2 separate regions of the Homo sapiens genome follow, and region 2 is reported to be linked to region 1. Evidence: microRNA targets listed by miRTarBase, many of them from high-throughput screens and not tested one by one. Region 1 holds a microRNA gene; the other region holds the end of a gene's coding sequence.
Evidence for each region. Region 1 holds the annotated microRNA hsa-miR-6838-5p (AAGCAGCAGUGGCAAGACUCCU, at 2,558-2,579, shown strand). A microRNA usually pairs through its seed, bases 2 to 8, with sites in the 3' UTR of a target mRNA and lowers its output. Matches are read on the target gene's strand: a 7mer-m8 pairs with bases 2 to 8, a 7mer-A1 pairs with bases 2 to 7 and ends in A, and an 8mer does both.

Region 1 (4,344 bases):
GGGTAGATCGCTTGAGCTCAGCAGTTCAAGACCAGTCTGGGCAACAGGGTGAAACCCTGTCTCTACGAGAAATACAAGAGTTAGCCAGGCGTGATGGTGGATGCCCGTAGTACCAGCTACTCATGAGGCCGAGGTACAAGGATCGCTCGAGCCCGGGAGGTCAAGCCTTGAGGCCAAGGTGGAAGTTGCAATGAGCTGAGATTGAGCCACTGCACTCCAGCCTGAGTGACAGAGCAAGACCCTATCTCAAAAAAAAAAAAAAAAAAAGGTGGGAAGGAATGAATTCGTAGGCTCCCCTGTGAGAGCCGGCAAGTGGCAGGTGTTGAGCAGATACTCTGTTCTCTCTGCATGGCCTGCCTGGCTACTCTGGCCACACCATCTGGGACCTCCCTTGGGTTGAGGGCTCTGCTGAAGCAATCCCCACAGCCCAGCAGGCACTGCCAGCTCCACTGCCTCTTCGCACATCTTCCCCCGGGCCACTGCCCAGTTCAGCTGACAGGAGGTGAGACCCGCAGAGCTGGTTCCTCTTGATCGCCTCTCCCCATGGCAAGAGTAGTCAGGAATGGTTAGCAGCGTTTACTGAGAGCTCACTGTGCCAGGTGCTGCTGTTCCTCACATTTAAACCTCTCCTTAGCTGGGTGCCATGACTCACATCTTTATGTAGTCCCAGCACTTTGAGAGGCCGAGGCGGGTGGATCACCTGAGGTTAGGAGTTCAAGACCAGCCTGGCCAACGTGGCGAAACCCTGTCTCTACTAAAAATAAAAAATTAGCTGGGTGTGGTGGCAGACACCCGTAATCTCAGCTACTCGGGAGGCTGAGGCAGGAGAATCACTTGAACCTGGGAGGTGGAGGTTGCAGTAAGCTCAGATTGCGCCACTGCCCTCCAACCTGGGCAACAAGAGCGAGACTCCATCTCAAATAAATAAATAAACCTCTCCTTAACTGCGTGTGGGAGGCTGATAGGTGAGGAAACAGAAGTAGGCCAGAGTGAGGTGTTCGTCATGGCAAAGCCATCTTCCATCCTTTTACCACCTCTTGGTCCCACTTTATGCATAAGGAAAAACAGCCATCAAAAGAGATAGCCTGTGGCATGACTGTATCAACATCAGTATCCTTATATTTGGTTGCAAAATTATAGTTTTGTAAGGGGTTAACCTTTTGGGGGAGCTGGGTAAAAGGCACATGGGATCTCCCTCTGTGCTATTTCTTTTAACTGCGAGTGAATCTACAACTGTCTCAAAATAAAAGTTTAAAATTTAAAGGGGGAGAGAAGATAGTGTCAGGCTTAGATTGGGATCTCACTCTGCTCCCTGCCCTAGCCTCACCTTCCTCGGAGGCCTCTCCTGGTCCTGCAATGACGGGGCCCCAGGTTGATCACCTCATGCTGGTGAGGGATGGGGGCTCGGTGTGGTGGGCAGGCTGGGTGAGTCAGGAGGGCCGGTGTTGCCCCCAGGGCTCCAGCACCACCAGGACCTGAGCACCCCAGTCCTGCGGTCCGATGTAGATGCCCTGCAGCAGGTGGTGGAGGAAGCTGTGGGGCAGGCCCTGCCTGGGGCCACCGTCACGCTGACCGGCGGCTTCCGCAGGTAAGAAGGCCCGACGTGCCCCTCTGGCTTGGCTTCAGACCCCTCCCCAGTGAAGGGACCTGAGTCGGGGACCCTGAAGCGGGCCCACTCGTTGGAAGGGATGTGGCCTGGGGCTGGAGTGAGCAGGCCGTGTCCCTGAGTCAGAGTCAGACTGACGCCCTCAGGGGGAAGTTGCAGGGCCATGACGTGGACTTCCTCATCACCCACCCCAAGGAGGGTCAGGAGGCGGGGCTGCTGCCTAGAGTGATGTGCCGCCTGCAGGACCAGGTGAGGGCCTCCCTGCTCCCCAAGAGCCACCGCTGGCCAATGCCACTGCCTCCTGCTCTCTCCACACCACCGGATGGTCTCAGCCACGCCCGCCTCTCCCCACAGGGCCTCATCCTGTACCACCAGCACCAGCACAGCTGCTGTGAGTCCCCTACCCGCCTGGCCCAACAGAGCCACATGGACGCTTTTGAGAGAAGTTTCTGCATTTTCCGCCTACCACAACCTCCAGGGGCTGCTGTGGGGGGATCCACGAGGCCCTGCCCATCCTGGAAGGCCGTGAGAGTGGACTTGGTAGTTGCACCCGTCAGCCAGTTCCCTTTCGCCCTGCTCGGTTGGACTGGCTCCAAGGTAGGCAGTGTGCCGCTGGGCCGCCTGGGGGTGGGGCTGGGCCAGCCCTGCTGAGGACAATCCCTTCCCTACAGCTTTTCCAGCGGGAGCTGCGCCGCTTCAGCCGGAAGGAGAAGGGCCTGTGGCTGAACAGCCATGGGCTGTTTGACCCGGAGCAGGTACATTGTTGGGGACTGGGGACAGCAAACAGCACCCATAGTCCGCTCCCTGACCCACAATCTGAAATGGCCCCAGACCCCTCCAGCCTGAAACCCATAGGACCCGAATCTGGGTCTCCACACACAGTTCCTGGCCCTCAAGAGCACACCCCACCTCGGCGCTGGGCTCTTCCCCACCCTCAGTCTTCCTGCAGGGAAGCAGCAGTGGCAAGACTCCTAGGTCACGGAAGTCCTGCTTCTGTTGCAGAAGACATTTTTCCAAGCGGCTTCAGAGGAAGACATCTTCAGACACCTGGGCCTTGAGTACCTTCCTCCAGAGCAGAGAAACGCCTGAGCCTGCCTGTGTCCCCCACTTCCACTCAGGAAATTGGGCTGCCCCCAACCTGGCCACTGAATGTCTCCAGGCAGATATGCTGCCCCCTGACCCCCACCTTCACCCCTCCCCGCCAAGGCCTGGCTCTTCCGGAGGTCAATTGTGCCTGCAGGATCAGTTGAGCCCCTGCTGGTGTGCTGCAGGGTGTGATGAGGTGGGAGCCCTCAGTGCCAGCCTCATCACTGTGTGACCCTGGGTCTGCTCTTAGCCTCCCCATGGCTCACGTTCCTGCCCTGGATGGGATGTGAGTGGGGCCCACATCGTGGAGCTGTGGTGGGGCCTGCAGTCATGAATGGCAAGTGGTCCCTGATGTGCAGTGTCTCATTAGTTGCACTGCAGTTAACTGTGGCTCCTGCAGGGCACCCTGCCCAGAATGCCCAGAAGAGAACCATGCATACCTGCACTGCATTTGAGAGCCATGAGCTGGAGGCTGTGGTTCGTGCCAGCAAGGAGCCTACTGTCTGGTGTGCTGTAGGCATCTGGAGAGGGAGAGGGCCTGGGTAGGAGCTGGGAGGAAGATAATTTTCAACTATGGGGCTTCAGTACTGCAGCGCCCCGAGCCAGGCTCTGTGCTTCTGCCTTTAAGGCCTGTTCTCAGCACAATGTCTCAAAAATAGGTCATATCCTGCCACTCCCGTCGCAGAGCCCTTTAATGGTTCCAAACCCTAAGTCCACACATAGCCCCTGGCTCTGGCATCTCTCCAGCCCCACTGGCCCCGAGCTGCTTGACTCACCGGCTTCCTATTTGATGCACCCAGGCCCCCTTGTGGCCAACTCCCTCCCCTTCTCACTGAGGCAGAAGCACTGAGGTGGGCTGGACATGGGTGCCCTCCACGTCCCTCATATCCCCAGGCACACTCTGGCCTCAGGTTTTGCCCTGGCCATGTCATCTACCTGGAGTGGGCCCTCCCCTTCTTCAGGCCTTGAATCAAAAGCCACTTTGTTAGGCGAGGATTTCCCAGACCACTCATCACATTAAAAAATATTTTGAAAACATGCAGTAAAGTTGACTCTTGGGGTGCAGTTTTTGCACACGTAGGGCACACCAGGTCCATCCCCAGAACACTTCCCATGCTGTCCTATTGTGGTCATGTGCTTCTCCACCCCCACCCACTTAGCGGTGCTACATCCCTATAGTTTTGCTTTCTCTAGAATGTCATGTAAATAGAACCAAACTATATTTAACCTTTGGACTGGCCTCTCCCCACAGCCTAATGCCTTTGACGTTCCTGCAGGTTGCTGGGTATGTTGAGTTTGTAATTTGTTCCATGCCATGGGTGTTCTACAGTTTATCCATTCAGGTGTTGAATGTCTGGGTTGTGGCCGGATGCCGTGGCTCATGCCTGTAATCCTAGCACTTTGGGAGGCTGAGACGGGTGGATCACTTGAGGCCAGGAGTTTGAGACCAGCCTGGCCACCATGGCGAAACCCCATCTCTACAAAAAATACAAAAATTTGCTGGGCATGTTGGCTCATACCTGTATTCCCAGCTACACGGGAGGCTGAGGCATAAGAATTGCTTGAACCTGGGATGCCAAGGTTGCAGTGAGCTGAGATTGTGCCACTGCACTCCAGCCTGGGCGACAGAGCAAGAGTCTGCCTAAAAAGAA
Region 2 (4,000 bases), not on the chromosome of region 1:
GTATAATCATAGGTACGAAGGTCAGGGTAGGAGTCAGACTGAGGAGAACCTGGATTGTAGCAGGAGTAGCTCCAGAGAGTCGCTCTTCCATAAAATGAGATGTTGACCTTCCAGGGTGTCCCCTTCTGCAGATCTAACAGTGGCTTTCTGTCGTCTCCCAGCTTCCCGTGGAGGATGACATTGACCTCAGTGATGTGGAGCTTGATGACTTAGGGAAAGATGAGTTGTGAGAGCCACAACAGAGGCTTCAGACCATTTTCTTTTCTTGGGAGCCAGTGGATTTTTCCAGCAGTGAAGGGACATTCTCTACACTCAGATGACTCTACCAGTGGCCTTTTAACCAAGAAGTAGTACTTGATTGGTCATTTGAAAACACTGCAACAGTGAACTTTTGCATCTCAAGAAAACATTGAAAAATTCTATGAATTGTTGTAGCCGGTGAATTGAGTCGTATTCTGTCACATAATATTTTGAAGAAAACTTGGCTGTCGAAACATTTTTCTCTCTGACTGCTGCTTGAATGTTCTTGGAGGCTGTTTCTTATGTATGGGTTTTTTTTAATGTGATCCCTTCATTTGAATATTAATGGCTTTTTCCATTAAAGAATAAAATATTTTGGACAATGCCGATAAATGTATGAAGTTAGTATCCACATCATAAATTCAGAGTGATGTTTAGCAGTAAATCAATATTTTGAAGTGATACACAGATGTCTTTCCTCCCCACAAACTTTTTTAAACAAAAAACAAGACCTCTTTTCTTTAGATGGTGCCACCTATGCCCACCACAACAGAGATTTTACATGGAAACCGGGCTCAGTGAGAACTGATTTCCTGCCCAATATTTGTCTTTGGGCTGTCTCTAGTGACTAATTATTAAGGAATCTAGCTGGTTATACAGTTCAAGGCTTTCTATGTTGTTAATGAACCTCAAAATAGCCGTTAAGACATGAAATACAGCAGCAGGTTACCAATGCGAACAGGTAGTTCGCATTTATGTAAAACATTCAGAAAATGAAGTTTTGAATTTGTTGGAACATTCAAAGGACTTGAGAGCATTTTATTGTAACTTAAAAAAATAAATACAACTGTCACTAACTTTTGTGAGCAATTTCTCTGAAAAAGATCTTAGTTCTGTAAGACATTTGAACCATTCTCTGGCTAAAGGAAAGAGGTGTCTGTAATAATCTGCACGAACATGAGACAGAGGTGCCAGCTGGCCTTTCTAGTCAAGAAGACTAAGGTCAATATGGAAGTAGACATAAGGAAAATAGTCTTGGTTATTGAGTTGCAGTCCCGGGATCTCCACAGATGCCTACAAAAGAAGACATGGTAATGCTCTAAGTGCATAAACTAGTTTCCTGTCTTATCCTTTTAGTTTTGAGGAAGCTCGCCAGGCACTGAGCGTACGTTCTGCTCTGCGTAGCTGTGGTCCACCCCTCCAACCCTCTCCTTGCTGTGCTTTAATGTGTATGACATGTAGATTTTCATAACAGGCTGACAGATAGTTTTGCTTTGTTTTGTTTTTGAGACAGTTTCTGTCACCCAGGCTGGACTCAGCTCACTGCCTGCCTCAGACTCCCAAGTAGCTGGGATTACAGGCATGCACCACCACTCCTGGCAAATTTTTTTTTTTTTTTTTTTTTTTTTTTTTTTTTTGAGACAGAGTCTTGTTCTGTCGCCAGGCTGGAGTGTAGTGGCGTGATCTCAGCTCACTGCAACCTCCGCCTCCCAGGTTCAAGCGATTCTCCTGCCTCAACCTCCCAAGTAGCTGAGACTACAGGCACACACCACCATACCCAGCTAATTTTTGTATTTTTAGTAGAGACAGGGTTTCACCATGTTGGCCAGGTTGGTCTCCATCTCTTGACTTCGTGATCCACCCGCCTTGGCCTCCTGAAGTGCTGGGATTACAGGCGTGAGCCACTATGCCCAGCCCAATTTTTTTTTTAGTAGAGACAGGGTCTTACCATGTTGGCTAGGCTGGTCTCAAACCCTTGACCTCAAGTGATCCACCTACCTCCCAAAGTGTTGGGATTACAGGCAGATACCAGTTTTTTGAAAGTAAGATGCTGAGCTTACTGTAGAAATACTGCTGTTTCTGGATACCTACATCCAGTATACTTGTAGCGGCTACTTCATCCAGATGTCGGAAGACAGAGTTTAGAACCTCTCTTAAACGCTTGGTGGATGACTTCTTATGCGGCTGCAGGAGCACTGCCTGGAAGTTCACTGGTAGTCCATACCTTTTCAGATAGACAAAATGTGTCAGTTCACTGCTCCAAATGCAAACACGGATAGAAGGAACCTGACCAGAAACAGTACATTCCGAGGGTGAAAAGCTTCAACCAACACAGCTTCATAAAGTCAAACTCGAGCAAAATGCCTAGGGTCAGCGGTGATCTCTGGATAGAAAAAGCTCTAGAATTTGCTAACCCCCTTCTGATAGCTAGTTTTCAACTATAGAGCAAAAGAGGTCATCCCTCTGGCCATGAATGGCCATTCCACGGTGCATGCTCAAGTTGAATGCAGGTAGTTGGACTGAACATTCGGACTCCAAGGCGTTTGTCTAAAACCCAGCTCGGCCGTTTTTCTCCACTAAAGGAGAGGCAAAAATCTGGTTTATCAAGATTGTTACTATTTTCGCTGAGTTTTTGGGTAGATAGAAAACATTTTTAACATACCTAGTTGTATGCCTGAGCATGTTTAAAACCAGTTGTTGGGATGAGCTATTCCTGGGGTGTTAGCCCACACAAAATATAGCAAGTGCTGTAAATGGAAAACATTTTGTGATTGTTGATGTATTTTTATACTCTGAGGGAGCAAAGGATCGGATGTTCAGTAGTTAGCACCTATGTTCCCTCGGGATCCCCAGGCCTTGATGTGAAGTCTGTTTTTACACGCCCTTCCACTCACCTAGTACTCTGTGCAGACGGGGCTGCCATAAAGATAAGTCCTGGGAGCAGGACCTATTAATATTACTAAGGTTTTATTTATCTATTTTTTTTTTTGAGACAGAATCTCGCTCTGTCACGCAGGCTGGAGTGCAATGGTGCGATCTCGGCTCACTGCAGCCTCCACTTCCTGGGTTCAACCGATTCTCCTGCCTCAGCCTCCCAAGTAGCTGGGATTACAGGCGCCCGCCACCACCACGCCAGGCTAATTCCACCACAGTCATTACCAACTTGCACTGGAGGTTGTTTATTCATCTAGGACACGTCCTTAAAGCTTAAGGCGCTCCTCCCCCAGCAGCCTGGCTTGAGGGAGAGGCCTGCCTCTGTTGTGCTCGCTGTGGTGGGTGGTAGGCACCCTAGGTCCTTAAGGGACATACGCTCCAGCCCTTAACCTTTCCTCAGCCTCTGAGTTCTTCCGGCCCTGTCCTGTCTCTGTGGCACCCGTCCTGCTAATAATGCCTTCTCCATTCTGCCCAGAACAAGACACCATGCCGGGTGCAGTGGCTCACACCTGTAATCCCAGCACTTTGGGGGGCCAAGGCAGGCTGGATCACCTGAGGTCAGGAGTTCAAGACCAGCCTGGCCAACGTGGTGAAACCCCGTCGCTACTAAAATTACAAAAATTAGCTGGGCGTGGTGGTGCACGCCTGTAATCCCAGCTACTAGGGGAGGCTGAGGCAGGAGAATTGCTTGAACCTGGGAGGTGGAGGTCGCAGTGAGCTGAGATTGTGCCACTGCACTCCAGCCTAGGCGACAGCAAGAGTCCATCTCAAAAAAAAAAAAAAGGACCCCAGGAGCGGCTGGCCCATCGGTCTCAACCTCTTTCTTGGGCAGATGCGCATCCTGGAAGGCATGGACAGGCTTCACTGTGTTAGGCCGTTAGGCCTGAGAGCAACCGACTTCTGAGCCGGGCAGGGTTGATCTGGGGCCATGTATATTAGAGATGGCTAGAACACTCCCAGGAGCTGGGTACACCCTCCAACCCAATGCTGCCATCCGTGTCGGTACAGGCTTTTGAGATGGGCGTGCACAGGTGCGCATGGGTAC

Region 2: miRTarBase lists PDIA6 as a target of hsa-miR-6838-5p. Seed matches in the 3' UTR shown: 7mer-m8 at 511-517.

What each region holds. Positions count from the first base shown.
Region 1 is chr7:44,071,642-44,075,985 of GRCh38, reverse strand. It overlaps MIR6838 (microRNA 6838), which reads left to right and starts at 2,553; the gene lies at 2,553-2,608. It overlaps POLM (DNA polymerase mu), which reads left to right. Exons shown (of 11, transcript NM_013284.4): 7 at 1,456-1,588; 8 at 1,753-1,855; 9 at 1,961-2,203; 10 at 2,278-2,361; 11 at 2,609-3,924. The coding sequence ends at 2,695. RefSeq lists enhancers at 1,548-1,617, 1,688-1,887.
Region 2 is chr2:10,780,488-10,784,487 of GRCh38, reverse strand. PDIA6 (protein disulfide isomerase family A member 6) reads left to right here. Exons shown (of 13, transcript NM_005742.4): 13 at 162-1,097. The coding sequence ends at 230. It overlaps ATP6V1C2 (ATPase H+ transporting V1 subunit C2), which reads right to left. Exons shown (of 14, transcript NM_001039362.2): 13 at 2,113-2,245; 14 at 1-1,314. The coding sequence ends at 1,225. Among named protein-coding and RNA genes, the nearest start is that of PDIA6, 30 kb to the left of the region's middle.